Regions from separate parts of the Homo sapiens genome. Here region 1 is linked to region 2. Evidence: fine-mapped expression QTL. Tissue or cell type: sun-exposed skin. Region 2 holds a variant in brackets; the other region holds the start of a gene. All regions are shown on one strand. Distances are between the middles of the regions. Region 1 holds the start of TSPAN2 (tetraspanin 2). Region 2 has its middle 10 kb from the start of TSHB.

Evidence for each region. PIP is the estimated chance that this variant, and not a neighbour inherited with it, causes the effect.
Region 1: TSPAN2 starts here. The variant in region 2 is the best candidate, but not a certain one, in a credible set for the expression of TSPAN2 in sun-exposed skin (GTEx, PIP 0.64).

What each region holds. Positions count from the first base shown.
Region 1 is chr1:115,087,878-115,090,784 of GRCh38, reverse strand. It overlaps TSPAN2 (tetraspanin 2), which reads left to right and starts at 1,282. Exons shown (of 8, transcript NM_005725.6): 1 at 1,282-1,421. The coding sequence starts at 1,353.
Region 2 is chr1:115,038,836-115,041,742 of GRCh38, reverse strand. No RefSeq gene overlaps it. Among named protein-coding and RNA genes, the nearest start is that of TSHB, 10 kb to the right of the region's middle. The variant C/T (reference allele first, on the strand shown) is at 1,741.

The DNA of each region.
Region 1 (2,907 bases), 49 kb before region 2:
ATTGGTCAGCCGACTGAAAGCTGTGATTTGGCTCCTGCCTTCCTGACTCACTCTGCCCCCACCAGGCTTCACTCGGGCTAACTGCGGTTCTCAGAACTCCCTTGGAGGCCTTGTTCTCTCCAGCTCTGTGCTTTTGCGCATGCTGTCTTCCTGGACTGATCTTTTCCGCCTGGGCTCCGTCTTCTAGACCAGATCAGGCCCCTCTCCTTAGCAATGCCTTTTCTGGTTAAGGCAGTCAGGCCAGGCACACCTGTCTAGCACCCAGCCCTTCTCTCCTCACCCTATTTGCTTACAGATCTGTCTCCAACACCAGAGACTGTGGTTCTGGGCCTGGCTGTCTCCTCATTGTTGAGTCCCTGGGGCTTGCTACTATGTCTGGCCTATAATAGGCACTCAAAGTTTTGCTGAATTTATGCATAAGCTCTCCGAATTTTGCTTTCTTGTCTCCCCCATACTGTCTGACACCACATATTGTAGACACTTAGTCAATGGAAGTGGGAGTCTGATTTTCCTGCCAACAGCCTAACTTAATAAAAACAAAGCAAAACAAAAACCGCCCCCTTCCCCTTTCTCCCATCTCCACATCATAATTAAGATCCCGAAAATTTGGGATCCTTCCAAGCCCTCCGATCAGTGGAACCCGGCAGGACATGAGAAGTCAGACTCCCTCCACTGGCCGGCTGGGTTGAGGGCAGCCCACAGGACTCAGGGCGCCGCCTCCCGCACCCTCTCTCAGTTCTTGCCTATTAAGGTAAGAGTCCCCCGAGGAGGGGGGAGGGGCCGGAGGGAGGGTCCCCTAGAAGCTGCTTGTGTGCTTGCTCCGCGCCGCGGAGCCGCAGCCCTGGACACTCAGTCAGGTGCCCCGCGACTGGTCCTGCCAGCTTCGGGGCAACCTCCGACCCCACTTAGCTCTTCTACCCGAGGTCACCTTCCTAGATTTCCATAGCCACGAGACCAAGTGCTTATCCCTCAAGCATCGCCCGGGCCTCAAACCGGTCTCCGCACAGGGCGCTGATTAAATGGGTCCCCAGTCCCCGGTGGGCGCTCCCGCCCTGCAGGTGCTCCGATAGCCGGCGGCGGTGCGCCCACTGGAGGGAAGGAAGGTGGTCCCTGGGTCCGGGAGAAGAGCGAACGTGCTCCCTCGGGCTGCTCGATCTCCACCCGCTGGCGCCCCCACCCGTCGCCAGCCACGCCGCTTGGGGTCCACGCGCCCCTCCCCGCCGGGCCCCGCCCCGCCCCCCGGAGGCCCCGCCCCGGTCCTCCCCGCTCCGCCCCCTCCCCGCCGGAGCCTGCCGCTCCCCGCGCTCGTAGCGCGGGCCTGGGGACTGGGGATCCCGCCGCCGGGCCGCAGCATGGGGCGCTTCCGCGGGGGCCTGCGGTGCATCAAGTACCTGCTGCTTGGCTTCAACCTGCTCTTCTGGGTGAGACCAGGAGCCGGGAGGGCCGGTCAGGGCAGGGGGCCGGGTGGCGGGCGCGGGGCCGGGGTCCCCGAGCTGCTGACTGCGGCGTCCGAGTCGCGCTCGTGGGGAGGGCTGGGTGCTCAAACGCGGAGGCGAGGAGAAGGCAAACAAAGAGGGAGGGGAGGGATGGAAGGGAGAGAACGGGAAGACAGAAGGTTGATCAATGAGAAATGGTGAGAAGGGGAGAGACACCGTGTGGCTCTTTCCTGGAAGGAACCCCCACCTGCCTTGGTTTTTATCTCCCAGCTAGTGACCCCAGGTGCGGGGACCCAGCCTCTCCTCACCTCCGGAGGACTTGGGTCCCTGTTCCCCTCCAGTCTCCCGTGCACACACCCCCTTTTCACTCTGCCTACCAGCTGGAACCAGGGCCTGGCCAGGGTGATGGGAGAGAAACCCCTGCCCTGGGGCTGCCTGGGGTGGTGCTCCATTCGAGTGTGTGGACACTGTACCTGGCTGTGATGGTTTTGTTTAGGAAATTGGAGATAGGAGTGAAAATTGTGGTGGGGGGGCGTCGTCCTTTTTCTGGGCATCAGGGTAAGAGTACCCCTGGGTGAGAGGAGGTGGTGGGTTCTCTTCTGAGAAGGGGATGGGGAATGGAAGGGCTTCTAAAGGGCAGCAGCAGCTCTCCACAACCCCCAGCCGCAGCCTCTGCTAAATACTAATTCTCCCAGAGATGATCTCATTCAACTTTGCAGGGTTTGATTGAACTGACAGCGTTCCCAGGATTCATGGTTCACAGAGAGATAGGATCTTGACCCTTGTCTCCTATATTATCGAGACAGGGATACAGCTAGACCAGACCTACATCCCTGGATACCCTGTCCCAGGGCCTGCAGGACTGTGAGACAAGGTCTGAAAATTGTCTTTTCTGCACATTTCCTCTTGGGCTTTCTTAAGAGAATGTCAGCCAGTGTAACTGCTCAGCTAGACCCTGAGGGGAAACATTGGATAAAGAGGTTTGAGAGCAGCCAGGGCCTGGGTGCTTTGAAACTACCAGGTTGGAGGAGGTGGCTGTCCTATCTGCTCTGGGGGACGTTGTCTTCCCATGATTGCAACTAATTAATTATTGAATGATGGGCTCCTCTTTTGTCTGTCAATCCATTAGCCCAGATGCCTGGGTGACTTCAGCAACTCCAAGCTCTTCAGTATCCTTCAGCAGTGGAAGGTGTGAAGGAGGTACCTCCTCGACATCCCCTGAACTTTAAAGAGACACATGGCCTTTGTACACGTGGGGATTTACATCAAGCATACTATAGGGAGAGGCGTTTCTGAAGACCCTTTATGTTGTATTTTTTAGGAATCTGGCTTAATTTCAGAAGCTGTTAATTATAGATGTCACGCCACAGTGACAACCTTCATTCTCACTGCTTATGAATTCAAAGCCTTATGAAGTTTTAAGCCTGAGGAGGAATTCTTAAGCTGGGTTCAGTGCTTATTTAGTGGCTGA
Region 2 (2,907 bases):
TCTTCCCTCTCTTTCCCCCAAGCAGGAGTCCCTCTCTGGGGTTGGCCACTTGGTGTTGTGGGAGGGGTGACTCAAGCACTCTGGCCATTGCAGCTGGCAGTGCGCTGAGTTGCATCTGATACCCATGACCTCCCAAACCAGCATAGGACTAGGACACTCAAGGCCCATGGCTGCTATTGTCTGACTGCACTGATGTTTATTCAAGGCCCAAGGACACTTTTGTCAGCAGGTAGTAAAGCCAGCCAAGAATTGGGTCTGCCCTGCCAGGGCAGTGGATTCCCTCCTGGTCTGGAGTGGGTATAGAAGTGTGGTCCAGGAGCAGTGGCCTAGAAATAGGGGCTTCAAGATTCTGCTAGGTGCTTTGTTTTACTGTGGCTGGGCTGGTACCCAGTCGCGAGACAAAGAGTAACATCTTGTTCCCCCAAGCAGAAGGAGTCTCCCTTCTTGCTGCACTGCCTGGAGTTGGGATGAGGTGACACCAGCACTCTCGTGGCTGCTGCAGCTGGTGTTGCACCAGGTCACATCCCAATCCCACTGCCTCCAAGACCAATGCAACACCAGGGTTTGCCCAAAGATGGAAGTCATTATGGCCTGACTGCCACTTGAATTTATTTGGAACCCCAGACCACTTTACTCAGCCTGTAGTGAAGCCGGCTGTGACTTGTGTTCCTCCTCCTGCTGCAAAAGATTCCCCTCTGCCCCGGGACTGGTTGAAGTGCTCCCTTCTTGAGCATCAGAGAAATTCTGCCTGGTGTTGTGTTCTGTGTCAGAACAGCTCTGAGTTCCAATGCAAAATCCCTCATATTTTGCTTTCCCTCCACTAAGCACGCAGATTCTCTCTCTGTGCTGCACTGCCTGGGGTTGGGAATGGGGTGGTGTAGGCAATGCAATACCGTCCTTCCTACCCTCTTTAATGCATCTTTCCTTGTTATTTTATTAAAACCAAGTGCTGTGATCTCTCACCTGATTTCTTAGTTCTTTTGAAAGGGCTTTATTTTGTAGATAGTTGTTCAATTTGATGTTCCTGCAGGTAGGGGGCCCTATCACTGCAGGGTTCTATTCCAGCATCTTGCCCCACTTCCTAGCTCCTCCTGTATACTTTAAATCATTTCTAGATTACTTGTTTACTTAATTCAAAGGACATGCTGTATAAATACTTGTTATGCTGTATTGCTTAGGGAATAATGGCAAGAAAAATTTTATACGTGTTCAGTACAGATGCAACCATTTTTTTTTTTTTTGGTCCAAATTGTTTTAATCTGTAGTCGGTTAAATCCACAGATACAGAACCCACAGATACTGAGGATCAACTATAGTTGTATTTTAATTCATATTTTTTATGTAAATTATACCTCTTTTCCGCAGAATTGCTCCTTTATTATCCATGGTTCAAGCTATAAAATTGCACACTGACGCAGGGTCCAGTGTGGTTCCCCATGCAGTCAGCAACTATAATTGTTCTCCTTACCCTGTGAGCGGTGTTTATAGATTTGGCTGAGTGAGAATGAGGCTGGTGGGAAGATGGCAATGAAGGAGATAGCATGTTTTCCCTTCTGAAACAGGTTTATCAAAGATGAAAAGGAAGAGGTACCCTTCTGTCATGGGTAAAATGGAGTTTCCACAGCCACTGGGAAAGCCACTGGAACTTTAGTAGGTGCACCACACCCCTGCTTTCCTGGTTCATGGCCCCTTTGACATCCTCTTTGACCACCAGCTCCTCAATTTCAACAACATCATTTT[C/T]GCCACCCCTGGGAGAGAACACTCATGGGCCTTCAAAGCTAGTAGATTAACTGCATTATCTTAGTTCGGGCTCATCCAAATCAAATTTATGTTAAGTTAGATTTTAAGAGGGACAAAAGGTTTCTACTTTTTTTCAGCATGATCCTTCGTTTTTTACTATAACATGTACCTGTAAGGTATTATATGTAAGTTTCTTTTGAAAGGTAAAAAGACTTCACCAATGCAAAATGATTTTTAAAAATATCCTCATTATAACAGCAAAGGCTAAATACATTCCAGAAATCCACTGTTCATATAGTTTATCTCCTGGGGATAGGGGAACCAGGAAGAACAGGAGTAACATGTCCTGAATGTTGCAAAGCATAATCTATGCTGATTTCATAAAGTTTTTAGCTAATGTATCAGAAATCCTTTCAAAGCTTTGGTAGTTGTTTGTGGCAGGAGGCAGCGTTGTCTGTATAATTTATGATGTTCTTATATTAAATGGAAAAAAATTAAAAGAAATTACCAATATAAAATGCCTAGCATACCTGGCAAGTAATGAATATTATCTGTTGTAATTATGTTAATACTCTGATGAGGAGAGGTTTTGGTTTTTTGGTTTTTTGCTTTTTTTTTTTTTTTTTAGATGATGGAGTCTCACTCTGTTGCTCAGGCTGGAGTGTAGTGGCATGATCTCGGCTCACTGCAACCTCCACCTCCTGGGTTCGAGTGATTCTCTTGCCTCAGCCTCCCTAGTAGCTGGGATTACAGGCATGCGCCACCACACCTGGCTAATTTTTGTATTTTTAGTAGAGATGGGGTTTCACTATGTTGGCCATGCTGGTCCTCGAACTCCTGACCTCAGGTGATCTGAACACCTTGGACTCCCAAAGTGATGGGATTACAGGTGTGAGCCAAGGAGAACTTTTTGCTAATTACAAGTCAAACAGCTTTCTAGAAATGATGCATAACTGAACATATTTCATTGTGATACCAATTATCCATTTGAACACATTTATTTGTAGAATTAATGAATAGCTTTTGATATCTTTCCCAATTCTATTTTAATTCAAAGACTTGAGATCAGTAGCCATAGCTAGAGTCCTTATGCTTTTCTCTGGGCCTACTCTACCTTATAAGATGAAACCCACACTAATATTGGATTGGTTTTTTACTTTGGGGGTT